Linked DNA regions of Homo sapiens. The protein of the gene in region 2 interacts with the protein of the main gene of each other region in a pairwise test. Each region holds a gene or a part of one and is shown on either strand. Other genes may lie near its edges.

The links.
Region 1: the proteins of SOX7 (region 2) and SCAI interact in binary tests that used the Homo sapiens proteins (3 or more experiments, as listed by UniProt).
Region 3: the proteins of SOX7 (region 2) and GLRX3 interact in binary tests that used the Homo sapiens proteins (3 or more experiments, as listed by UniProt).
Region 4: the proteins of SOX7 (region 2) and APBB2 interact in binary tests that used the Homo sapiens proteins (3 or more experiments, as listed by UniProt).

What each region holds. Positions count from the first base shown.
Region 1 is NC_000009.12:125,133,491-125,140,528, forward strand, and holds part of SCAI (protein SCAI), read right to left. Parts: intron 1-7,038. UniProt on the Homo sapiens protein: Tumor suppressor which functions to suppress MRTFA-induced SRF transcriptional activity. May function in the RHOA-DIAPH1 signal transduction pathway and regulate cell migration through transcriptional regulation of ITGB1.
Region 2 is NC_000008.11:10,727,512-10,734,812, reverse strand, and holds the start of SOX7 (transcription factor SOX-7), read left to right. Parts: upstream 1-4,301; 5' UTR 4,302-4,379; coding exon 4,380-4,617; intron 4,618-5,182; exon of another isoform or gene 5,183-5,522; intron 5,523-7,301. UniProt on the Homo sapiens protein: Binds to and activates the CDH5 promoter, hence plays a role in the transcriptional regulation of genes expressed in the hemogenic endothelium and blocks further differentiation into blood precursors.
Region 3 is NC_000010.11:130,174,361-130,180,180, reverse strand, and holds the end of GLRX3 (glutaredoxin-3), read right to left. Parts: intron 5,315-5,820; coding exon 5,275-5,314; intron 5,185-5,274; coding exon 5,092-5,184; intron 840-5,091; coding exon 789-839; 3' UTR 509-788; downstream 1-508. UniProt on the Homo sapiens protein: Together with BOLA2, acts as a cytosolic iron-sulfur (Fe-S) cluster assembly factor that facilitates [2Fe-2S] cluster insertion into a subset of cytosolic proteins.
Region 4 is NC_000004.12:41,008,528-41,015,565, forward strand, and holds part of APBB2 (amyloid beta precursor protein binding family B member 2), read right to left. Parts: intron 5,872-7,038; coding exon 5,056-5,871; intron 1-5,055. UniProt on the Homo sapiens protein: Plays a role in the maintenance of lens transparency, and may also play a role in muscle cell strength. Involved in hippocampal neurite branching and neuromuscular junction formation, as a result plays a role in spatial memory functioning.

The DNA.
Region 1 (7,038 bases), on a different chromosome or scaffold from region 2:
CAAAAGATTTGGATACTTCACTAAGTTATATGAATGGCAAATTAGCACATGAAAAGATACTCAACATTATCAGTCATCAGGGAAAGGCAAATGAAAACCACAATGACACGTACCAGTGTACACCCACAGAATGGCAAACAATGGTGGTGGTTTTAAGGGTATACATGTATTTCAAAACTTATCAAATTGTACACTTCAAATATGTACAGCTCACTGTATGCCAACTGTACCTCTACAGACCTGTTCAAAAAACAAAAAAAAAAGAAAGAATCACAAGACCAAGTATTGGTGAGGACATTTGGAAGGGCTAGGATTCAAACTCTAATGCAAGATTTCTCAGCCTCAGAACTAATGACATTTTGAGCTGGGGAACTCTTAGATTAGGATGCTGTCCCATGCATTTTAGGATGTGTAGCAGTATATCTGGCCTCTACTCACTAGGTGCTCCAAGTTGTAACAACCCAAAATGTCTCCAGACATTCTCAAATGTCCCTTAGGAGGCAAAACCCCCTTAGTTGAGAACCACCCCTTAGTCTGACACCACAGCCCAAGCTCTTAAAAACATCTTTCTTTCCACTTCTGGCACTATCTTGGTTCAGGTCCTGAATTTAGTTCACCCAAGACCTCATTATTAGTCAGTCTACATCTAGGCTGTCATCTCTTGTCATTTCAATAGTCACACTACCAACAAATTAACCTTCTAAACCTTCAGGGCTTAGATAAATGACTGCAGAAACTGCCCTCACTACCACTATGCAGAATTCCTATAAACCCTTTGTATGTACTGTGTAAACCTTTGTATATATACAAAGTCATTACACTGTCTCATATTTCAGTGTCTGTCTTCCCATTAATACATGAGATTTTCCCCAACAACGGCCACCTCACTCATATCTATATCCCTAGAACCCAGAACTAGAAAGCATTCAAATGTTTCTTAAACAAATTACATACAACAACAAAATGCCCGGATCTCTTTGCTTTAAATATGTAACAACAACAACAACAACAAAAGCCCCCAAATCATACAGTAAAGCTTTCATCAATGTGAATCCTATCCAAACAAATGGATCTTGTTCCTAATAGGACCAGAAAGGATTCTCCAACTCATAACCCAAACATCATTAACAGACATATTGGACTCTTCAGAATTTTCCAAAAGCACATAGAGACCAAGTTTCCTAATCTTTTTTGTGTGTGTGTGAGATGGAGTTTCGCTCTTGTTGCCCAGGCTAGAGTGCAATGGCACGATCTCGGCTCTCTGCAACCTCCGCCTCCCAGTTTCCAGCGATTCTCCTGCCTCAGCCTCCTGAGTAGCTGGGATTACAGGCATGCGCCACCACGCCAGGCTAATTTTGTATTTTTAGTAGAGACGGGGTTTCTCCATGTTGGTCAGGCTGGTCTTGAACTTCCAGCCTTAGGTGATCCGCCCGCCTCAGCCTCCCAAAATGCTGAGATTACAGGCATGAGCCACCACGCCCGGCCAGTTTCCTAATCTTAAAACTCCTTTCAGTCCATTGCAGTTTTTCAGGGGCATTAAATAGTATCACATTATTTTGGACAACCAAACCCATCCCACACTAACTCCTCTTGCCACCAATTCATTTATTGGTTCACTAGTTTTACTGAGCTCCCCCTTAGTACCTTATAAGGGTGCAAAGATGAACTATGATAAGGAAATAAAAGTTTTAAGGGGAAAAAGATACAAAGAAATAATAATGCATGAGGTTCTTATCTCAAACTGTCTTTGTTTTTCTTAAACTGTCTTACAGTTTGGTCTGCACTAGAAATGTTCTCAAAAGATAACTCAGCCACTAACTAACACCTATCAAAAAGAATTATTTAACATCAATATCCTAAAATAAAAATCATAATTTTAGGCCAGGCACGATGGCTCACGCCTGTAATCCCAGCACTTTGGGAGGCCAAGGCAGGCGGATCAATTGAGGCCAGGAGTTCGAGATCAGCCTAGCCACCATGGGGAAACCCCGCCTCTACTAAAAACAGAAAAAATTAGCTGGGCATGGTGGTGCGCCCCTGTAATCTCAGGTATTCAGGAGGCAGAGGCACAAGAACCACTTGAACCCAGGAGGCAGAGGTTGCTGTGAACCGAGATAGCATGACTGCACTCCGGTCTGGGAAACAGAGTGAGACTCCATCTCAAAACTAAATAAAAATTTTTAAAATCCTAATTCTGGGCTGGGCATGGTGGCTCATGCCTGTAATCCCAGCACTTTGGGAGGCCAAGGCGGACGGATCACCGGAGGTCAGGAATTCAAGACCAGCCTAACGAACATGGAGAAACCCCATCTCTACTAAAAATACAAAATTAGCTGGGTGTGGTGGCGCATGTCTGTAATCCCAGCTACTCAGGAGGCTGAGGCAGGAGGATCACTTGAACCCAGGAGGCAGAGGCTGCAGTGAGCCGAGATCACACCATTGCACTCCAGCCTGGTCAACAAGCAAAACTCCATCTCAAACAAAAAAAAAAAAAACAAAAAAAAAACCATAATTCTGTCAACTGTTTTCTAAAATGTACTACATATGTAATATAACTGTCAACAACTCTACATAGCAGACCCGTTCAATCAGTTACTCAAGGCTACATTCAACAATTAACTTACCTTTTTTTTTTTTTTTGAGACAGGTTTTCACTGTTGCCCAGGCTGGAGTGCAGTGGTGCAATCATGGCTCACTGCAGCCTCCACCTCCCAGTCTCAGCTGATCCTCCCACCTCAGCCTCCCAACTAGCTGGGACTACAGGTGTGTACCACCACACCTGGCTAATTTTCGTATTTTTGGTAGAGATGAGGTTTCACCATGTTGCCCAGACTGGTCTTGAACTCCTGGGCTCACACCATTCATCTGCCTCAATTAATTCATCTTGAAGTGTTTACCAGGAATTTATATCATTTGATATTCAGAATTTCTATAGCCACAGTATAAAACTGATACTAATACCTTTCTTTTTTTTTTTTTTTTTTTTTTGAGATGGAGTCTCGCTTTGTCGCCCAGGCTGGAGTGCAATGGCGTGGTCTCAGCTCACTGCAACCTCTGCCTCCCAGGTTGAAGCGATTCTCCCGCCCCAGCCTCCTGAGTAGCTAGGATTACAGCTGCCTGCCACCACGCCCGGCTAATTTTTGTACTTTTAGTAGAGACGGGGTTTCGCTACATTGGCCAGACTGGTCTCAAACTCCTGACCTCGTGATCTGCCAGCCTGGGCCTCCCAAAGTGCTGGGATTACAGGTGTGAGCCAGCATGCCCGGCAACTAATACCACTTTTTTTTTTTTTTTTTGAGACGAAGTCTTGCTCTGTCACCCAGGCTAGAGTGCAGCGATCTCGGCTCACTGCAACCTTCTCCCAGGTTCAAGTGATTCTCCTGCCTCAGCCTCGCAAGTAACTGGGATTACAGGCATGCGCCATTGTGCCTGACTAATTTTTGTATTTTTTAGAGATGGGGTTTCACCATCTTGGTCAGGCTGGTCTTGAACTCCTGACCTTGTGATCCACCCGCCTCGGCCTCCCAAAGTGCTGGGATGACAGGTGTGAGCCACCGCGCCCGGCCTAACACCTATTTTTTTAAATATCTGGCTACAACCATTACATCCTTATTCTATAATTCATCTTTGGGGTCTTAACTGTACATTTTGTTTTCTAGTTTTAGAGCAACCCCTGCACTGTTTTCTGAGGAAAATCTTGGTCCTGCCCATAGGACCTTTAAATACATGTGCTGGTTGTCCATTCAGGTCAAAATGCTGACATGATCAGGATCTAACCTAAATCAGGCATGCTGAATATGTAGCCTCATGATTCTGGACTGAGAAAATAAACTCATTGCAACCTGATGCTTACTTAAATTCCTGGAGAATTACTAAAGGATTTGTTCACTCAAAAATTCAATAAACTGTTCTCTACGTGCCAGATGCTATTCTAGCTGCTGGGGATAAACAGTGAACAAAACACGTATAGTCCCCACAGTGTACGCATCCCTCTTTACCTCTGAATCAAGCCAAACCATCAGAGAGCCATATACCAAAACCACATTGCTTTGGCCCCGTGGAGACTGTTCACTGGCAATAACTCACTTGGATTGAGAAGTATAAGAAGCAATCTTTATTTATTTATTTAAGACGGAGTCTCACTCTGTTGCCCAGGCTGGAGTGCAGTGGTGCAATCTCAGCTCACCGCAACCTCCACCTCCCAGGTTCAAGAGATTCTCTGGCCTCAGCCTCCTGAGTACCTGTGATTACAGGCACGCGCCACCATGCCCGGCTAATTTTTTGTATTTTTAGTAGAGATGGGGTTTCGTCATGTTGGCCAGGCTGGTCTCAAACTCCTGACCTCAGGTGATCCACCCGCCTCAGCCTCCCAAAGTGCTGGGATTACAGATGTGAGCCACCACGCTTGGCCAAGAAGCAATCTTTAAAAACTCACGTTTGATTTTAGAGATACCATGAATCTGAAAACTGAACTTTATTTTCTTCTTCATTTTACTCCAGAAAACTCAGAGCCAAACACCAAAGCAACCATTAGCAATGATGCAGGACTTTCCGGTCCATGCACTAATTCTGCCACTGGCTTTATCTGCTTCTTTCATTTCTTCTTGGCCTTTATTTTTAATCTTCTCATTTTGAAAAGAAGTGGGAAATAAAAGATATTTGATGGGTGTTTTTTAACCTAAAATTTATTGTGTACCTTCTATGTGCCAGGCACTATCCTAGGCACCTTACAACCTTGGGGAAGTCGAACTATTATTTCTTTTTTTTTTTTTTTTTTTTTTGGAGACAGAGTTTCGCTCTTGTTGCCCAGGATGGAGTGCAATGGTGCAATCTCGGCTCACTGCAACCTCCACTTCCTGGGTCCAAGCGATTCTCCTGCCTCAGCCTCCCGAGTAGCTGGGATTACAGACATGCGCTACCACGCCCAGCCAATTTTTTTTTTTTGAGGCGGAGTCTCGCTGTCGCCCAGGCTGGAGTGCAGTGGTATGAGCTCAGCTCACTGCAAGCTTTGCCTCCCGGGTTCACGTCATTCTCCTGCCTCAGCCTCCTGAGTAGCTGGGACTACAGGCACCTGCCACCACGTCCAGCTGATTTTTTTTGTTTTTAGTAGAGACGTGGTTTCACTGTGTTAGCCAGGATGGTCTCGATCTCCTGACCTTGTGATCCGCCCGCCTTGGCCTCCCAAAGTGCTGGGATTACAGGATTGAGCCATCGTGCCCGGCCCAATTTTGTATTTTTAATAGAAATGGGGTTTCTCCATGTTGGTCAGGCTGGTCTCAAACTCCCGACCTCAGGTGATCTGCCCACCTTGACCTCCCAAAGTGCTGGGATTACGGGCGTGAGCCACCACGCCAGCAGAACTATTATTTCTACTATATAGATGAGGAAACTGAGGCAGAGACAGGCTTATTAACTTGCACATGATCTCGCAAACTACATTTGACAGAGCTGAATTCAAATTCAGCCCAGACCATTTCATGTAAGTGTATGTACAGGCCATGATGGGACCCAATAAGGTGGAGCAGAGGGAGGGTGGGGGGAAGCCCTCACTGAGCAAAGTCTTAAAGGAGGGGGCTTGTCAAGGAGCAAGGAGAAAGTACTCCAGAAAGAAAAAGAAATCACATACAAAAACCCAAAGCAGACCAGGTACTGTGGCTGACGCCTATAATTCAAACACTTTGAGAGTCTGAGGAAGGCAGATAGCTTAAGCCCAGGAGTTCACGACCAGCCTGAGCAACATGGTAAAACCCCACCTCTACAAAAAATGCAAAAATTAGCTGGGCATAGTGATGCACATCTGTAGTCCCAGCTACTTGGGAGGCTGAGGTGGGAAAATCACCTGGGCCCGAGAAGTCAAGGCTCCAGTGAGCCATTGTCACACCATTGCACTCCACCCTGAAGTGAGACCGTCTTTAAAAAACAACAACAACAACAACAAAAACAACAAAAACCCTAAAAACAAAAAACCAAAGCAAAGAGGGAACATAAGTTCTGGGAATGGCAAATGGAGCACGGAGTTACATTCAGCAATTAATTCATCTTGAAGGTTCACCAGAAAGTTAAATCATTTAAAAGTAGACATTTAATAGTTCCATCATTGAAAATCGATATGGCCAAAGTATTAACCGTGGCTGGGAAAGTATGAAGAAGTAAAATAAAGGCAATTTTTTTATATGATTAGGCTAAAAGTCTGAATGATGTTCAATAAGCAATGAGGAAGCACAGAGGGATCCTAAGCATGAGAATTACAAGATCGATTTGCACAGTACAGGGAGGGAATTACAGATTCAAGGTAGGGAAACCAGTCAGAAGGCTACTGAAGAGTCTGGCAGTGGGGTAATGAGAGTTAAATGAGAGCTATCCAAAAGAAATACAATGCAAAGAAATACAATGCAAGTTAAATGTATGCAGCTTTTAATTTTCTAGTAGCCATATTAGAAAAAATAAAAAGAAAGGCTGGGTATGGTGGCTCACGCCTGTAATCCTAGCACTTTGGGAGGCCAAGGCTGGCGCATCACTTGAGCACAGGAGACCAGCCTGAGCAACACAGTGAGACCCTGTCTCTTACAAAAAATAAAAAGTTAGCCTGGCATGGTGGTGCACATCTGTAGTCCCAGGTACTTGGGAGGCTGAGGTGGAAGGATTACCAGGTCGAGGCTGCAGTGAGCTGTGATTGCACCACTTCACTTCAGCCTTGACAACAGAGCCAAGCCCTGTCTCAGAAGAAAAATAAAAAGGAAAAAGAAGTAAGTGAAGGCCAGGCCCGGTGGCTCACACCTGTAATCCCAGCACTTTGGGAGGCCTAGTCAGACAGAGCACTTGAGGCCAGGAGTTCAAGACCAGCCTGGCCAACATGTTGAAACCCCGTCTCTACTAAAAATACAAAAATTAGCCGGGCATGGTGGCAGGCGCCTGTAATCCCAGCTAATCGGGAGGCTGAGGAAAGAGAATTGCTTGAACCCAGGAGGCGGAGATTGCAGTGAGTCAAGATCACATCACTGCACTCCAGTACGGGCAACAAAGTAAGACTTTGTCTCA
Region 2 (7,301 bases):
CGCGGGAGGCGGGGCTGGCAGGCCTGGCCGGGTCTCCCCTCTCTGCAGCCCGCACCTCGGCCGTGGCCAGCAGGGTTTGGCCCCTTGCTTTTCACGTTACCTTGTTCAGGACACGCCTTAAACTGAAGGCACCCTGTGGATGAGGAAAGGCGCAGTGGAACTTCCAGAGACCAGGCTAGAGGGGGCGCAAAGCCAGGAGGCGTCGCAGCGGCTGGTTAGAAGCACTTCCCTCGAGCTGGGGCACTACCGGGGCGCACAGGAACCTGGTAGTCCAGGCGTGAGGTCAGGAGCCGTGCGCTGGGGTCTGTGCTCTGGCCTTTGTAGCCGCAGCCTCACCCGCCTTGTATGGGAAATGGCTCAGTCCTAAAACTCTGGGCCTTCTGCTTCGAGGGTTGTGTGGAGGCGGGGATGAGCCAGTGAATGGGAACCTGCTTTGCAAAGACTGCCAATCAAGTACAGACAAATCAGCGTGATCAAAGATGGTGATGATAATGACTTCAACCTCTAGCCTGGTGTGAGGAACTAAAAGCAACCACAGAACACTTGCACCCAACGCCTGCGGGCGCTGCCGCGGGCCTCCGGAGCATGCGCGGTGGCTCCGCCCAAGGCAGGCCGTGGGCCCGGGACGCGCCTGGTCCGGTTCAGAGCTCCGGGTTCGCGGCGGGTTCGGAGCAGGTGCCAGGGGTACCGTGGCGGGATTGCCCTCTCCCTCCCCCTCCTTCTCCCCCTCCCCCTCTTCCTCCCTCTTCTCCTCCCCCTCCCTCTCCCCTTCCCCCCAGGGCAGCTGAAATTCCTCCGTTTGGAATAGAATAAGAACAGCTCCTGGAGAGGAAAGTTGTGGAGGCCCGACTTTTTTTTTTTTTTTTTTTTTTTTTTGGTTTTCGCCCACTCACGATTTCATATTTCACAACTCAGAAAAGTCTACTAGGAGCTTTTACAAACACTGTGTCAGCCACCTTGTATTATCCCCATTTTACCGGTGAAGAAACTGAGGCCGATAGTAGTTAAGTCAGTTATCAAAATACAAGTGAATTGCAGGAAATTGGAATTGGGGATTTCTGGCTTCGGGCCCTGTGTCCTTGGAAACCAGTGTTCACAGAACTACCGAGCTAAACGGACAGAGAAGGGGGTCGGGGAGAAAGGAGGGAAGGAAAAGAAAAGAAAGAAGGAAGAAAGAGAACATCTTTTAAGAGAGTGCAGTTCAGGTGACTCACGCGGGAGGAGTGAGCTGTGGTGGTGCCGCCAGGCCGGCTGCGTGGAGCACGCGCGGTGTCCAGTGCGCCCCGCGTCACCACACCCGGCCCTGCCTCTCCGCCTCTGCTTGGCGGCCCCTGCAGGAACCCCCAACCGGTCCTGCTGCGGGTCAGAGCCCCGCAAGATCCGGCCCGGTAGCCCTGGGCCTCGACCTTTCTCCTCCAGGTCTTCCAGGGTCCGCGCCGTGATGATTCGCCGCACCTAGCCTCGACCCAAGAGCCGCTGGACCCACCGCTGGCCGCGGCCCCGAACCCAGCGCTGGCGACAGCAAGTGTCGGGATGCCAGGGCTGGCGCCCTCCCCCTCTAGCTCAGCCCTCCGAACTCCAGGCTTTGGGGTCGCGTAGGGTCGGCGCGGAGCTCTAGGACTGAAGGTCGCAGTGACCAGAGAATCGGCGAGGTTATGGAGACCCCGCGTCCCTTGGCGTCGCCTGCACCAGGGCGCGCTCGCTTACAGTTGCCAAGGTGCATAAATGCGTCGACGCAAGGGAATGAAGGAATGGAGCGAGCGAGCCCGGCTACCGCGGTGCTGACAATTTCCAAGCCCCGGGCGGCGCCCGCGTCAGCGCTGGGAAGGTTAATGTTCACCTCCTGGACAGCCCAGGCTTGCAAGCTCGCTGCAGAGGAAAAGCAAGAAACTAAACAAGTGCAGACAATAATCACAGCACGTATTCTCTGGCCCCGTCCCCGTTGTTTTCTCTGTTGTTGCCATCGGTGTCTGGGATCTAACTTGACCATTCCGTGTTCCCTGGGGAGGGCGCATCTTCCTAACCTGGTGCCCGGGCGCGGCCCCACGGCTTTCGCGCTCTGCTCTGGGGCCTTGCAGGGAGGGTGCTACGGGCTGCGGCCGGGAGTGGGGACGCCCGTCGTCGGGAAGGGGGCGCTGTCCCCTCGTGGCCTCCGACCCTGCAGAGCACTGCCACCGCCCTGGAGCTCAGTAGGGTCAGAAAGTGTCGGGGACGAGCTCTTCCCGGGATCCTCCGCCGCCGCTCAATCCCCCCGTGGGACCCTCTTTCTCCCCTTTCTCAAATAGCTCCCTTCTCCTGGCCGGGCGCGGCCCTGGATCCCACGAGGCGCACTCTGGCCTAAGGGTTTTGCTGGAGGCATATGCGGGAAAGGGGTTGGCCAGTGGAAATGGCCTGGGCTTTGCAGGGTTGGGAAGTCCGCCTAGATGGAGGACGCACTCTCTGCAAACGGCCCCAGGTGGGTCCCCCGCCGCTTCGCCTCTGGTTCCAGGATGCTGCCCCAGCGGTGGGCACCCTGTTCTCTGCTCGAGCTGCGCAGCGCGCGCCCCGCCCCACACCCTTGTATTCCCGGCCCACCAGTGCAGCGGTTGGGGCGCACCGGCCTAGGGTGCTGCTACTGAATCCTGGCTGGAAAAGAGGGGCAAACCCAGCCATCTCTTTTGTGCGGAAAGCTAATTCTCGGATGAAAATTGTCCCCGGCTCTAGAGGTAAAAATTAGGACGTGAACACAGAGACGCTGCAGTTCACCTTACACTTGCCGGGTCTTAGCCGTCGGGCCCGTTGCATGTTGCATGCAAGGCATCGGTCGCTGCGCGCGGGGACATTGAAATCCGGACTCAGGCTCACGGGCTTCATGCCTAGAGTTATATTAACATCAAGCATCACAGGCAGGGTTGGAGCTTTCTCTGCATTTATCTCACCGAATCTTCACAACAGCCCCGGAAAGTCAGTCTTATCATTGTCCCGTGTTAGGATTAGGAAAAGAGATCCAGAGAGATGTGACTTGTCCAGAGTCGCGCGTTCAGTCACCTGAACACTAAGGTTCTGACTCCGGACCCCACGGCACCCCCGCACCCCCACAACGCTGCCTCCTTCCAGGATCACCTCTGTGGAGCCCCGCACATGGGTGGCGCTCAGTAAATTTTAAATTCCAGGATCTAGTCAAACCTGCCGACTTTCATTCAGTAGGTGTCTGAGCTATATTTGCTCACTCATTCTGCAGGCCTTGAGCGCCTACTGTGTGCCGGCGCTTATATGAGAGCGCGGGAACAGAGCTCCTCACAGGGGGCCGGGTGACAGGGGAGCTGCGGTGAGCGCGGCCGAGAGATGGCCGTGAGCTCCCAGCCTGCAGTCCCCAGGCTGCACGTGGGCCCGGCGCGCACGGTCGGTCTACACCAGGGTGTGCAGATGAGGGAAACTGGGGGAGTTCGCAGGTCGCAGCGCAGCCAGGGGGGGACGCGAGAGGGCGGGAGCGACTCCACTCGGAGAAGCGGGACTGCCAATCGGAGGAAGAAAGAAAAAATATAAGGAGAAAATTCAGGGTGAGAAGAGCCAGAAGTGAGGGAGCTGGAGGCCTGGACCCGGAGACTGGGTGCGGGTGGAGTGAGAGGAGAAATCAATCAGGTGGCTGAGAACCAGAACGACGGCCTCGCCCTCCTGAGAGCCAGGGGCGGCGGGGGCGTCGAGGGGTCTTGGGTGAGCACTGCACAGAACCCGAGGCGGGATGCGGCCCCCAGCCCCGGCTCCGGCCGGCCTCTGTGGCGGCCCAAGTTGACTGGGGCTGCGGTGGCCGAAGCCCGGTCATTTTCGAAAGGAATGGCAGTCGGAGTATTAAGAACGGCTGCTCTGAGGGGTTCATGGTCAATGTCTCTCACACCCAGGCGGGCTCGGCGAAACCTGGTTGGGTTGATTTTCTGAGGCCACACGCGCAGGGAGGGCGGTGGAGTCTGGCCCGGGCAGGCAGGGGCTGGAGCGGGCCTCCAGCGCCTGCCTTGCGTCTCTGCGGCACCTGCGGGTCCAGGGCAGGGGGCGGGAGGCGGCCCGGGGCAGCCGGGCGCAGATCCCCGGGCGGGCCCTGGCGGCGGAGGGGCGGGCCGGGGGCAGGCGCGGGGAGGAGGCCCTCCCTCACTCCCTCCCTCCGTCCTCCTCCCGGCAGGTCGGAGCGGGGACCCGGCGGCGGCCCGGGACGCAGGGAGGGGACCCGCGCCGACACCGAGGGAGGGGCCGCGCCGCCTTGGAGAGTCATTGGAGGACGCGGCCGCCCGAAGCTGATAAATCAGGGGCCGGGTCGCGGCTGCGGGCCAAGTTGGACGCCCCGACCCGTGCGAGGGCCAGGTCCGCGCCTGCCCCGCCAGGCGAAGCGAGGCGACCCGCGTGCGGCCATGGCTTCGCTGCTGGGAGCCTACCCTTGGCCCGAGGGTCTCGAGTGCCCGGCCCTGGACGCCGAGCTGTCGGATGGACAATCGCCGCCGGCCGTCCCCCGGCCCCCGGGGGACAAGGGCTCCGAGAGCCGTATCCGGCGGCCCATGAACGCCTTCATGGTTTGGGCCAAGGACGAGAGGAAACGGCTGGCAGTGCAGAACCCGGACCTGCACAACGCCGAGCTCAGCAAGATGCTGGGTGAGTGAGCGCGCGGCCGAGCGGGCTGGGGGCCGGGGGCGGGCGGCGGGCGGCTGGCGGCACTGCAGGGCGGGTGCGAGCGCGGAGCCTGGGGAAGACCCGGCACGCGGGACGAGGGCCCTCTTCGTGCCCGCGTGGCTGGCCATCTGCGCGAGCGTGGGTGCTCGCGGTGCCCAGGATTCAGAGCGGGGGCACTTGGCGCGGTCCAAAGTGAAACCGCGCGGCGGGCAGGGAGGCTCCTCTGCTGGGACAGGAGCGGAGATCGGCGCCCCAGGGGGCGGGGAGACGGGGCAGCGGCCAGGCCAGGACGCCTGGCGACAGGGACCGGCGTGCATGGACAGGGCAGGGACGGAAACGTTTGAGGCTGGGTGGAACAGGCGTTTACTAGGAATACCGAAGCGGGAAAAGCCAGCATTCCCTGGACCTTACAATTGGGCCATCTCAGAGGAAGGCTGTCACAGATGAAATTATAATTAACGAATATTCCCGAAGAGAGACCCTGAGGAACGAATCCTTGCTTTAACTAAACAATTAAGAGGAAAACAAAACAAAAGAAAAAGCTTACCCAAATAGACTCGATTCGTTCATCTATTGCTCAGTCTCGAAGGTGTAGATAACTTGATTCGGATGCTTGGGCTGTCCTGGAACCCGCTCTCTTCCTGAGCTGTCCCCGCAGGGACTGGGGACACGGACTCACCAGGTCCAAGAGGTCCAGAGTGAGGCTGTTAGGACACACCCGAACAACCGGAGTTCCTATGGGGGTTTCTTTTTTCTCCGGTGTCGAGCTGAGTACTTTTCAACCCTGCCTTCTTTGCCTTTCGACGAGGTTTTTATTCGTTTTAATCCGCGAAAAACTTTCAAAGCACTTGGTGCACGCAGCGGGAGACAGGCCCTGTAAGAAGGGCACCCGAGGCCGGCTCTACCCTTCCCAAACCCCACCCGGTCCGGAACAGAGCCCTTCCTTTTTTCGTCGGAGTTCAGAGCTCAGGGCTCTTTCCCGAGGCGGAACTTTGGGGATAGGACTGACGCCCCTCTTTCTGCTGGCTAAAGCCGCAGGCCCGCAGAGGGGGTCCCAGGCCGAGCCCTCCTGCGGTTTAGCTGCTGTGCAAAGCAGTTGATGGAGTGCTGGTTGCCAAGGGCCCAGCCTGGTGGCCGGCTGCACCAACTCGCCTTAGTGGTCTGGGGCCTTCTGGGGCCTTTTCCCTCAACAAAAATAGTAACATTTGTATTTTACACAGTGTTGGCATAAAGACAAATGTGTTAATATGTACAATAATAAAACATTTTATTTAACCTGTAAGTTTATATTTTTCTTCAGATTTTAAAAGAAGTGAAAATATGTTTGTTGTGGATCCCCAAACTTTTTTTTCCACGGACCGTGGGCACTGTGCCTGTTGACCCTGCCAACAGGGGGAAGCAAGCCCCTGCTGTGACCGTGACAGAGGAGGAATTCTGTGCAGGCCTGGGCCAGGGAATGGGGAGGAGAGAGGAGCATGGCTCTGCAGAGTTGGGGAAGCCTGCTCCCAGGAAAGGGGCAGGGACAGGGACACAGGAGACAGATGCTTCCTGCGAGTTGGTCCCCATCGGGGCCTGCACTTCAGCTTCAGGAGGTTACAGTTCATTCTGCAGAAAAGACACAGATTCCTTCCTGCTGAGCCATGTAGCTCCTGGCACTGGGTGAGGGAAACCGCAACACTGGTGCTTTTCACAATATGGACTTGTGCACCTGTTAGTAGGGGGCAGCAGGATGATCCCCTCCACCTGTGTGACATTTCCTTCTCAGCTCTTTCCTTTCTGACCTGAGAGGAAAAGGCTGGATATGCGAGTCTCAACTTTTTCCACTATAAACCTTCCAAACCTTAACATTAAAAATGTGACCTAGTCACACTGGTATTTAAAATATATTATGAATGAGAAAGTGCATAAAGAGCAGTAGACCTTTGGTAGCATTTTTAAATGAACACGTATTTTATTAGTTATATAACATCCAGGTACATTTAAAAGCTACGGCCACATTTTATATTGAGACCACAGACAGAGTATGGGGTGCACCTGCATCTTGGGTCACTTGCCACAGCTTTGTAGCCTCAGCCACAGGCTGGGAACTGACGACCAGCCCTGAATCTGCAGCTCCTAACACTTTCAAGTTGCCCTTTTGAGTGACAGCTAATGATGTTAATTGAAAGCTCCATGGAATTTCTATAAATTTTCTCCCAATTGGTACAATGCCCTTAATCATTGCCCTCCCCTGGCTCTGAGCCCCTGGCCCAAGGAGCCAGTCAACGGAGGCACTGAGGGCTGCTGTGTGCACGGCTCTGCACCTGGCCCTGTGCAGAATGTGCTGAGTGGAACACAGGGCCCTTTCCTTAGGCCTTAACCTCTAGGCTAGCGGGTCTCAAACTTCAGGACACATTAGCATCATGGTAGAACATGTTAAAGTTGTAGAATCCTGAGCCCACCTTAGGAGGTAGCAAAGCAACCCAAGGGGTCCAGAAGCCCCCCACCCCTAGAAACCACTGCAGAAGGGTGTGCAGTGCACACTGATAGATGAGGGAAGATGCTCCGGGAACTTGAAAAGCAACAGACAAGCAAGCAATGGTGAATAGAAGATCAAGCGCAGCCAGCATATTAGCACCAGTGGGTTGCAAGCATGGAATAATTTTTAAAGAGAGAGTTTGGAGCTG
Region 3 (5,820 bases), on a different chromosome or scaffold from region 2:
AGTCGAGGCTGCAATGAGCCATAATCGTGCCACTGCACTCCAGCCTGGGTGACAGAGCCAGACCCCGTCTGAAAAAAAAAAAAAAGTAGTGATGCTTACAACAAATGACAATACTTTTCCATTCTTTGTCATGACTACCCATTCTTCTAGACCTTATGAAAAAAGTGCTTGTTGTACCATATTCAATGAGAAATCATTTTCCTCTTAAATGTTTCTTGATAATTCACTACTGGTGCCTTGTGAAATGAGTCTCTAAACCTGCAGACATCCTACACTGCCTCTGCAATGTAACCAGTGCCGAGCTCAGCAATGACATCAGAAACTAATTTCCGTTGTTTTTCCTAAGCTGTAAAGAGATCTTTCACCAGCGAGGGGAGCCATTGTGTTGGCAAAGGAGTTGTCCTAAATACTGTTGTGTACTGCATTCCGCCACAGTTCTCCATTTTCTGAAGACTGCCTTTCTTAACTGCTAGAAGATACTCATGTACTAAGAAAAAGAGATTTAAGGTGGGTTAATTATAGTAGCTGTATGTTTAATACTGCTGTAAAGATACACTTTTTTCATACAATTATTGTTAATAATTTGAAGATGTTTATTGCATTCTATTTTTGGTGGGAAAAAAATGTAACATACATTTATTTAGCACGACATTGTGAAATACACAAAACATGTAACTGAGAAAGCAGGAATTTTCTATTCCTAGTCCATTTCTGAGGACTAAATCATGAACTGCTCCCAATGTAATTAAATATTTCTTACAATAGTTGGGCACCAAGTTTAAGATTTATTAATTTTCTCCTCTCAGTATAGGCAGCAATTCACCATTTTCTTTCAGTTCCTAAAAATAAAAAACAACAATAATAATATGTATATGCATATATAAAAAGATGGAAACATCTAAACAATCACAGCTTGTATGTATATCTGAGAACCAAAAGAAACACCTATTGGATTAAAACTCCAGTCTCTTAACACTCTCAAACTAAATGAGCCATAAACCCTGAATACACTATCAGGTTAAAAAATTTAACAAGGTATTCTTGGCCAGGTGTGGTGGCTCACAAATGTAATCCCAGCACTTTGGGAGGCCGAGGTGGGCAGATCACTTGAGGCCAGGAGTTCAAGACCAGCCTGACCAACATGGTGAAATCTGTCTCTTAAAAAATAAATAAATAAGGCTGGGTGCAGTGGCTCATGCCTGTAATCCCAGCACGTTGGGAGGCCGAGGAGGGCAGATCACCTGAGGTCAGGAGTTGCAGAACAGCCTGGCCAACATGGTGAAACCCCGTCTCTACTAAAAATACAAAAATCAGTTGGGCATGGTGGCGGGCACCTGTAATCCCAGCTACTCAGGAGGCTGAGACAGGGAGAATCTCCTGAACCCGGGAGGTGGAGATTGTAGTGAGCCAAGATCGTGCCATTGCACTCCAGCCTGGGCTAGAGCGAGACTCCATCTCATTCATTCATTCATAAATAAATAAATGAAGTTAAGGTATCCTAAAACCAACAGATTGTTTAGTATTAGGAAACGCAGCAACTGGAGCCAATGAAGCCCCTATTTAAACTGTAGCAATAAATAAGGAAAATAAATCAAGTGACTTTCAAGGTTGAAGAATGAAGTAATGTGGCTGGGCGCAGTGGCTCACACCTATAATCCCAGCACTTTAAGAGGCCAAGGGGGCAGATCACTTGAAGTCAGGAGTTCAAGCCCAGCCTGGCCAACATGACAAAACCCATCTCTATTAAAAAAAAAATTAGCCAGGTGGGCATGGTGGCATGTGCCTGTAATTCTAGCTACTTAGGAGGCTGAGGCATGAAAATTGCTTGAACCCAGAAGGTGGAGGGTGCAGTGACCCAAGAGCCAAGATTGCACCACTGCACTCCAGCCTGGGTGACAGAGTGAGACTCTGTCTCGAAAAAAAGGAAGAAAAAAAAAGCAGTGTGACGTTAAAAGTCTACTCAAATATGATGCTTGTTCCCCTCCCGTTCTTCCACTCACAGAGAGGAATCAGGCTTTGCTATTGAAACCCAACCTGGCAACACATCTCTGCCTCAGGAAAAGCTAGAGTACCAGTAAGAGGGAAAGGCAGAAACCATTAAAAAGACCTAACAATTCAGAAACAGACATGGCATCAAAAGAGCTACCACCAGGTTGACTGGAACTGCAGTACAGGCGCCATGCTCCTTGTGCCTGTTTTTCAGATTTAAAATCTGGATTATAGACACCAAGCTTGAAAGGACAGACATGATAAATAAGATTTTCTGGTTTAAAGAAACATTTAGTATGATATAACATTTCAGGTTATCACTGAACAGCATAAACATCAATCAATAAAACCATTAAAATCCGTATGACCTCCTCTGGATGAAATTCAAATAGGAATGATGCTGTCACACAAAACCCAGACGGCTTTCAGTCATGTCTAGGGATCTTCTTCTACCTACTCAACAAGCAGACACCCTGCCCCTCCAAGGGACCCAGCAGGACTTTTCTGAGCACACACTCAAGAAGGCACGGAGAGGACCACGCAGCTGAGTGGGCAAGGGCAGGTGGCCCTCAGGTGGAATCTGGACTCAATGGCTTACTAGTTATGGGATGGTGGACAATTCACCTGACCTCTCTATGTCTCTGTTTCCTCATCTACTGACTAAGAAGAATTCTGCTCTCTGAGGCTGCTTGGGAGATTACGTGAAGCAGCCTCTTAAAGCACCAAAGCAGTGTGCCTGGAACATTGGGAGCGCGCCAAATAAGGCAGTCCTCGCCACCCTCACTGCTGTTAATGCGAGCCGGCAGGTGGAAAGTCTAAACCTAACCAAATCTTCTATCTCTCTCAACAAACTGTCTTAAGTCCAAACATTCTGGAACAGCAGTAGTGAACCGTTTACTCTTCAGAGGCAATAACAACTCACAATTTTCTCAGGACACTAGATTAGCTGAGTAACTAAATCATCATTCAGTCCCTCATTCAACAAAACAAACGCTCATTGCTCCAAAGAGGCCAGCCAGATTAGACCATTTCAAACATCTTTTAATTGAACTGAACATGAAGAACTGCATTCTGCAAGAAACAGATCAAAATGGGATCGTAAGATCTATTCCATATATCTTCTCAAGGAAAAACGTTAACAATATCACACATTTCAAACGTATATGTTCTTAGCAGGTGAACATAAAAAATCATATAACACTCTGTTATATAACTAAAAAGAAGTTACCCACGCAGCTTAGCTTTAGAATTAAATGAGATTTATTGATTGTATCTTCCCAAGAGTTACCAATGGCTAAGGTACAGGCTATAAAACATTCAGACAAGAACAGGCTCAAGAGTATTTGGGGTTTGAGTATTCTTTGTGTCTTACAAAAATAAGACTATATATATATATATAGAGAGAGAGAGAGAGAGAAAGAGGGAGGGAGGGAGGGAGGGAAGGAGGGAGGGAGGGAAGAAACAAATGCAGATCTGTTTCTGCTGCTTCAGGGCTATTCAAGAGCAATAGTCTTAAAAATTTTTTCCTCCAGGAGTGAGACCATTCCCCAGGAAAAATGTCTCACTGGCTTGTTTAAGAAGTATGATATCAAACCTGGAACTCCACAGGAAACAAAACCTACACAGAGGCCACCAAAGGACAAAAAGAGCCTCTGCATCAATGGAACTCAAGCTTTGTTTTTATAAAACATATTGGTCCAAAGTGCTGATGTCATTTCAGTGGTAGGCTAGTGCTTCACTTTACAAAAGCACGTGTTAAAAACTTTTATTTTGGCCAGGCGCGGTGACTCATGCCTGTAATCCCAGCACTTTGGGAGGCCAAGGTGGGCGGATCACCTGGGGTCAGCAGTTCAAGACCAGCCTGGCCAACATGGTGAAACCCCATCTCTACTAAAAATACAAAAATTAGTGGGGCGTGGTGGCGGGTGCCTGTAATCCCAGCTACTCAGGAGGCTGAGGCAGGAGAATCACATGAACCTGGGAGGCAGAGGCTGCAGTGAGCCGAGATTGCACCATTGCACTCCAGTGGGGAACAAGAGCGAAACTCTCTCAAAAAAAAATGTAAAAAAAAAAAAAAAACTTTTATTTTACAACATAACTAGAAGTAGTACTACTTGCTATTTGTTTTCCACATAAAAAGTCGAAGATCTGACCTCAGAAAATTCTCTCATGGATTGAGGCAAGAGGAAGGCCTGAGGGCAGTCAGCAACCCACTTTTCGGGGCAGTTTTGTTCATGCCCCTGAGCAGACCCTGGCATTCCTGCCCAGCATTCCTGTCTAGCTCCTCTCTATACCCAACCAGCTACCACCCTCCTCGATGCCACCATGCCCACAGTGGGCCTGGGGTGCAGTGGGGTCTGTGTGTAGATATTAAAGCTACAGCTTCTGTTTATTGTTTTGGGCTAATCAAAGAGCTACAGAGCACACAGGTGTTAGTTGGTGGGCCTGCCCTGAATTCTAGACATTAAATACATGCAAAGTAACGTCCATTTAAAACTCAATCAAGAAGTAAAGTCACTTATCCATCCAACAACCATTTACTGAACTCCTAAAATACACAAAGCATCAGGAAGGACTCAAGATACATAAGAAATGGTGTCTTATCTAAAACACAATCTAACAGATAACAGATTTCCAAGCATCTCAAAACCAAAAAGGACCTACATTTTTTCTTTCGGGGGACCAGGGGCAGTGATCCTCAGCCTCTGTGGCAAGGATGGGCAGCACCGGGCCACAGGCCTCACACTGCTGTCACTCCATGCACCCAAGGGCAGATGAGTAAGGCAAGAAAAAACAATTTGTTGTCTGGGAGCTGAAGCAGGATCTAACAAGGACCCTGAGTGACAGGGAAGATCACCCCACAGAAAGGAGATGCAATGGTTAGCTCAGGTGTGAAAGTAAGAACAGGCTGCCACGTGGGGACAGTGAGAATGGCAGGGTAGTCATGCACACAGAAACGGTGATACTGGTCTAGAAATGTCTGAGAGTCAGGCTGGAAACAGGAGTCAAAAACAACTCTCAAGTTTCCATTCAATATGAAATCATTTTTAAACATACCAAAATCTTTTCCGTTCTTTAGAACAGCAGAAGAACTGGCCTTACCTTCACAATATCCAATCCTCCCACCAGCTCCCCTTTCACATACAGCTGAGGGTATGTTGGCCAATTTGAGTAAGCTTTTAATCCTTGCCGAACCTAAAGAAACAACAGGAATCCTGAAACCATCCTATCAGGCCCTTAAGATTAAAGCTAAGACAAGGGTGAAACATCAAACACAGAACTTACTTCTTCATCCTCCAATATATCGAATGTTTCATATTCAACACTGCAAAAAAGAGAAGACATTTTAACTGGAAATACAGTTAAATCAAAGTGTAAAACCTCTATGCATTTGATGTTTTTAAAATAATCAAGAAAACCGTTTCACTGCTAACAAAATGTACTACAGACCAATGGAAATGATTTTACTTCTTAATCTGTCTGGTACTACACAGAATTAGTCATTCCAACATATGACTTTATCTGGATTTTTCTCCGGACAATATTGGGTTAGACCAGGGGTGGGCAAACTTCTTCTTAAAGAGTCAGACACTAAACACTTCAGGCTTTACAGGCCAGACAGTCTCTGCTGCAACTGCTCAGTTCTGCTCTCTGCTGCAACTGTCAGCATAAAAGCAGCCACAGACAATGTATAAATGAAGGGATGTGGCTATGTGCCAATATAACTTTATTTACAAAAATGGGCAGCCAGCTGCAACTTGCCAACCCCTGGATCAGACCCACACCCCCATCTGCACGAGCCTTCATTAACTGAACACTCTTACCCACTTC
Region 4 (7,038 bases), on a different chromosome or scaffold from region 2:
TTGCTCTTAAGGTCCAGAAAGTCGTAACTCAGAGTCCAAAATATAGGTAATTCATAATTAAGAGAAAAGCAAACTTTTATAACACACCACTGTACTGATACTGTCTCTAATATAATAATCATGAATATTCATTGAGCTCTTGCTATATGCCAGATACTGCTCCTAAAAGCTCTTTGAAGATGCTCTCGCTTAATCTTCACAGCAGGTCTATGCCAAAACACTCTTATCCCCATTTTATAGATGAGAGGCTATGAGAACTGCCTAGATATAGCAGAGCTGGGATTTGAACTCAGGAAGCTCACTCTAGAGCCTATGCTCTTAATGATAAGTTAATGGATCATGAGGCGCATTGCCACACCCATCTAGACTTGGGACTTGGTTTTCTCTGTGTATAATTCTGCTTTTGTACACTTTAGCAATGAATCTGATTTTGAAACAGTTACTACACAAGATCCATCTAGTTTCATACTCTGTGTCTTCAATTTTATTAAATCCCAAACTAAACATAAAATTACATGTGGGTACCACTGAAACCTGTACCCAGGAAGGTTCAAAATGATGCATCTTTTCAACGTTTTCATAAAGCAAACATGAAACACTAAGTGATTAACAGAGAGACTATATACAGTGTGACCAACAGGTATTTATTTATCTGAGCCATCATGCTTACTACCTGGGGCCACTGAGGGAACTGTATCTTTGAAAAAAACCCTAACTAGATTCAAAGTTCTCACTTTGCAGTAGCAAGATACAACCTTTCTTTTAGAATCAGGGCCAAGGCACTCTTTAACTTTTCTAAACTCCTATGAAAATAGTCATTTCACAGATGCTTTTCCTTTTTCAAATAGCCTCTTGTTTTCTTAAAGGACAGACTACAGAGGAGGAAAAGGGCAGCCACATATTGTATACATGATTGATTGTACAAAAAGAAGTTACTAAACAGCTGGAGGGGGCGATTCAGTAGTAAAGGAAAATAGAAAGTAGTCAGTCTCTAGGTTAGCCATTGCATTTTATTGTATAAATAGCATTCTAACTTGGAAAGGATGCCCCTGAGGTAGAAATGAGTCTATTTTTCTAGGCTCCCCAAAGTGCAGTCTACGATCCAAAGATAATTGCATCATGATTTAGTCATAAAACACACACCACTGTGATGACTATGTATTTAACACACAGCAAGTCAACAGACAACTATACCCTTTTTATACATGTACTATGGCATGGCATACTAAGATGTCACAAGATATTTGCTCTCGTTTTCTCTTTTCTTTCAACTGTTGGTATTTGTGTTTATTTTATATATATACACATACACATGTATATACTATATAAAACATACATAATAAACACTAACTTTATCATTACAAGTGAAACATACAATGTTTAATTTAGACTGATCATGATTATTTTAAACACTAACAGTATGTTTCACAGGAAGGATGAAATCAAAAGAAATACAATGCTAAAAAACTGCTTATTTTATTTCATTCACCAATCTATGTATTACCTGAAACCTGAAGTGTGATTAAAGCAAAGTGATTTCATTTCATGGGGATCCACAGCAGACTCTGAGGCAATTCCAAAAGAGGACTCCCAAAATTATGACTATTAATATTGAGACAGTGCAACATGCTGAAGCAGGTGCAGAGATCCCAAGTGAACATTTTGAAGGCTGGCATAGGTTTGGCTTCTAGTATATTTTTTAAAAACACAATCTCATTGCTTTTCGGTCACAGCTAATACATTTTTTCGAGCATATTTGATTTGAAATACCTATCCTCAGCAACTTATCAAGGGCCACCATCATCCTGTCAAAACCAACTTTCAGAGAGAAAACTAAGCATATCTTCTTAACATGTAAAAAAAACTCTAATCCAGTTCTCATCACAGGCCAAGCACTGTAAGATGTTCTGTGGAAACCCAACAGCAAGTAATGTCAGGACACTGAGCAAATGAGTGGTAAGTGTCACAGCAGAGGGGCCCCTGAAAGTCTTCCTGGAAAGAGGGAGTTAACGTGTACATTTCAAGAGTCCCAGTAGGTAGACTGGAGTGCACAAACTTTGCCCTCTCCACAGGCCCCTACTGACACCAGCACTCAATAAGCCAAGGGGCTATGGACAGAAATACCTAAATACTCATCAGCAGGGAACTTGCTAAATAAATCGTGGAACTTGTATATAGTGGAATAGTATACATAATACTTAAAAAGACTGACGTAGAAAAATGGACTGATCTACAAAATACGTTCTTACGTGAAAAAAAGCAAAGCATTCATAAAACAATCTAATTGGAGTAACTTTTTCCTGGTTTTAACTATTTATTGTGGCAAATTTTAAACATACAAAATTAGAGAATAGAATAATGAACCCGCACGTACCCATAATGCAGCTTTAACAATCAGCAGCTTATGGGCAATTTTGTTTCTTTTTTTATCCTTCTAATCCCAATTATTTTGGAGAAAATACCATACACAATATTGTTTCCATCAGTATGTGTTATACTGTATTATATATGTTATACTATGACATAGATTAGTATTTTATATTAGTATATATCTCTAAAACATAGGGATTCTAAAAACATCATCACAACATTTGGGTAAATTTTAAAATTGATTATTATTGTTTTTTTTTTTAATTTTAATTTAATTTAATTTTATTTTTAAATTTCTTTTGAGATGGAGTCTCGCTCTGTTGCCCAGGCTGGAGTGCAGTGGCACAATCTCGGTTCACTGCAACCTCTGTCTCCCAGGTTCAAGCAATTCTTCTGCCTCAGCCTCCCGAGTAGCTGGGACTACAGGCACGCACCACCACACCAAGCTAATTTTTGTACTTTTAGTAGAGACAGGGTTTCACGATATTGGTCAGGCTGGCCTTGAACTCCTGACCTGGTGATCCACTGCGCCTGGCCTAATTTTTATTTTTTGAGATGGAGTCTCGCCTGTCACCCAGGCTAGAGTGCAGTGGCGGGATCTTGGCTCACTGCAACTTCCGCCTCATAGGTTCAAGCAATTCTTGTGCCTCAGCCTCCCAGGTAGCTGGGACTACAGCCACCCGCCACCATGCCTGGCTAATTTTTAATGTTTTAGTAGAGAAGGGGTTTCACCATGTTGCCCAGGCTGGTCTCAAATTCCTGAGCTCAGGCCATCTCTCCACCTTGGCCTTCCAAAGTGCTGGGATTACAGGCGTGAGCCATCATGCCGGTCTTAAAATTTATTATTAATATGCGGATCTATGACTCAAACATTTTCTGAGAGGAAATAAAAACATAAGGTAATGGTCATCACTGGGAAAGGGGGCTGGGGTGAAGGGAAGAGGCAGCTTAATTATTCATTTAAAAATACATTTATGTTTTTTGAAACAGAGTCTCGCTCGATCACCCAGGCTACAGGGCAATGGCATAATCATGGTTAACTGCAGCCTCGAACTCCTGGTGTCAAGTGATCCTCCTGCCTCAGCCTCCTGAGTAGCTGGAACTACAGGCACATGCCACCGTCCACCATGCCCAACTAATTTTTTTGGAGGAGGAGAGATGGGGTCTTACTGGTCTTGAACTTGTGGGCTCAGGTGATCCTCTTGCCTCAGCCTCCCAAAGTGCTGGGATTACAGGCATGAGCCACTGTGCCTGAACAAAACTTTAGGTTAGTTTAAAACTTAACTACAACAGAACCGGCTATACCAGGAAGAGCAGCAGAAAGGGTGCCATGACCAGAGGGAGACAGCAAGGTGTCAGTAAACGCCAAACACAGGAAGTAGAGCTTGGCTGAAAGATGTGCAAGGAGTCTTTCATGTATTAATAGATTCAAACTCCAGCAGGTGACAATGTCTATCAGCTTCAGGATATGAATTCTCTAAATGGGTAAAAAGGATAGAGAGCTGTGAACTCAGGGACATTACTGAACATAATTATGATTCCAATAATGTGCAGGGCCAGACAGTTATGAGATGAAATGGCCTCATCTCAACCTCCCTACTGCCACATTCCACAGTAGTATGCATCATTGAAAGTACTGGGATTTTTAAAGGGCACTTCAAAAACGCTACTTTTTTTTTCTTCTTAAACAAGTTAATGTCTTAACTCCTCTTTTCCTTATCTTTAGTCCTTGTAATTTATCTACCTTATCGATTGTAAAAATGTGATTTCCTTCCCTGGTGGTTCTATCTATTTTCTTTGTTATATCTATATTAACACAGCCCTGGGACCCACTAGGGGAACTGCTGGACTACTTTTAAAAAATTAGCCTTTCTGAGTGCTTGTTTACGCTGAATTCAGATACAATAAGGTTCTCCACATTTTTCAATCTTAGAATCAGTATAGTGGGAGCTATAAGAAAATGATATTTAAAGTAGCTGACTTTTAGGATCCTGTTCATTTCTGTCACCATTTTAACACCTCCGACAAATCCAAAATATTACAAATATAGACAAAAGTCCAGAAAGACTGGTCTCAATTAGACTAGTTAAAAGTCTAAACTTCTGAATATATTTTTCAAGAAATACGATTTTCCCACTTTTAAATATTACTTAAGGCTAATAAAACACTCCTCAGTAAATGTCAAAAAGAGAAATGCCTTTAATGAACAGATGGCTAATGTTTTAACTTTTTATGCGCTTCACCATAAATAAGTTATTTTGAGGACTTTAAAATAGTTCTCTTAATTGGGTTATATCCTTCCCCCAACAACTTTGTTTCTTTTATTATTTTGCTTACCAAAACCCAGTATTTCTAGATAGCATATAGAAATGATCTACCTATGCACTGGAAGTGTAATTTCTAAATATATGATATTTTACTGTACTTAACACCAAGGATCTGTTTATTTTACAAAAATGCTTCCCAGAACAAACAACTTTATGCACGATCCAAAATGAAACTGACCTAAAATATGGTTGAGGAATGCAGTAATATTTTGCAAATAAATTGCCCAATTTTACCGCAAGAGGCTCACGTTCCTCTCTGCATAATGGACATTTTTGGTCAGTCTAGAGATTTACTCCAATAGTTGAAAAGATAAAAAAAAAAAAGTGCCAGCTGAGGCTACGCCTTCCCCAGGGGTACCTGTTTCATCCGGGGAGCTGGGTGAGGCACTGTCTTGGGACAACGTTGTCCAGCTGGACTCCTCATCGCTCGGTGCCAGGTTCTGGATCCGGTGCAGTGCACAGTCGGTTTTGGCCCCTGTTTTCGGATGATCCTTCTTGGTTTCTGGGCTGGATGACACTGTGGCTACTTGGCCGTCTTCAGGGCTGGACTGGGGTCTGTTTGGTTTCTGCAGCAGCAAATCGCCATTCCCAATGATGGTGGAGGCCTGGCCCTGGACTGGCTGGGATTTCTCTTCCGCAGTCCCATGGTGATTGCCTCGGTTCTGCTCTAGTTCTCTGGCTGAGGTTTCCAGATCTGCATAGTAATTTAGGAAGCTCTTAGTTCTCCTGGGCTGGGAGGGTAAAATCTCACAGCTCGAGGAATCCTGTGGGTGGGGCTCTTTACCCTCTAACTTCTCAGAAGTTATGTTGATGACTGCAGTGGGGCTCAGGTTTTTGTTGGGGTCCTGCTGCCCTTGCTCTGCAGCCTTACGGAGCTGGTTCTCCCCATTTTTCACCAGCTTGATGTTGGCAGAGCCATTTCCCAGCAGGGGCTGTGCAGCTGGATCCGAGAGGCCCATGGCCGCCTGGATGTTAGTTAGTGCATATTTTTTCCTGCATTTGGGAGGTGTGCTGTTCTTGGTTTCTGTGTGTTTTATTTCAGCGTTCAACAGTTCATTGTGGGAGGATCGGAGGTTAAGGGTGTTTGGTGGTGTGGCTGGGCTGTTCCGATTTGTGACGTCTGTAGTTCCGCTGCTGGCCATAAACACTGCCAAGGTGTCAACACCTGAGTCAGCTGGGGAAAAAAAAAGTCATTAGACACCTGCCATGATTAAACTACTTAGTATACAGTGTGAGTAAATATTTTTATATAGAAAACTAAAAGAAGAAATGCTTCCACTGCACATACATTCTCATAGAATGGACCCATTTTCCTCTTTATTTCACCATTTGTTCCTATATTAAACAGGAGCAAATAAAGGGCTTAACGTGGATAACCAAAAGCCAATTTATAGAAAAGCTAAGAAGTCTGAGGACCTAAATTTTACTTAAAATAAAAAAGCATTTCTCTTTGAATTCACATAAAAGCATTTTCTTCTGGTGGCTGGTCTTCATTTTTTACAAGCTTGAAAAATCATCCCCTTTCCAAATATTCCCACTACATTTTTATTCTTTGGTTCCTTCAGGCAACAACAAAAAATTGCTCAAGATTCCTCTGGGGCTTCAGCTTTCTTAATTAACCTGAAAGGTCATTGTTCAATGATGCTCCATACATCCAAGGTAATTTTTCTCAACCACGTTTAGAAACTGTGTTCTGAATGCCTGGAAAACTAACCCTCCATTAGAGTTTGCTAATGTCTTGGTGAACATTTTTGACCTGGGCTTACTGTTTGTACTAAACTGAAATTTTGAAGAAATGGCTTAATTTCTGAAGAACACGTACACACGCACACAAAACTATTACTGTAGCATTGAGCCCTTGGCTACAGACAACATGTTAGAGCTCCCAGAGGAGTCTGAATATATTCCACTGAATTAAAATACAGACTCAGCTGTTTGCAGTCATCACATGCCTCTGCAGAACTCCTAGGAAACTATCTGGCAACCGCATTTATCTCAAATATTGTTTGCGCCGTTAGTGATTTATTCTATATGTCTCTCGCTGGGAAGAAAGAAAGGTTTCTTAGACTAGAAGGGAATAAAATTCATCAGCAAGAATTCCTAAGGTTTCAGATTTCTCAATCTATGAGGAGTGACTTCTTTCTTATCTGATCCTTTTGCCCTCCACAGAGACTTTGGTGATCTCTACCTCAGCAGCAGATGAACCAAAGCACAGCTCCTGAAATTCCTGAAATTATATTCTGACAATTCCCTCTTCCTCCCCCAGGCAAAACAGGGATCTTTGCAGGAGAGAAGGGCAATAATTTCCTTGTTTGGGAGCTTAGAGGTATCTCTCCATCAC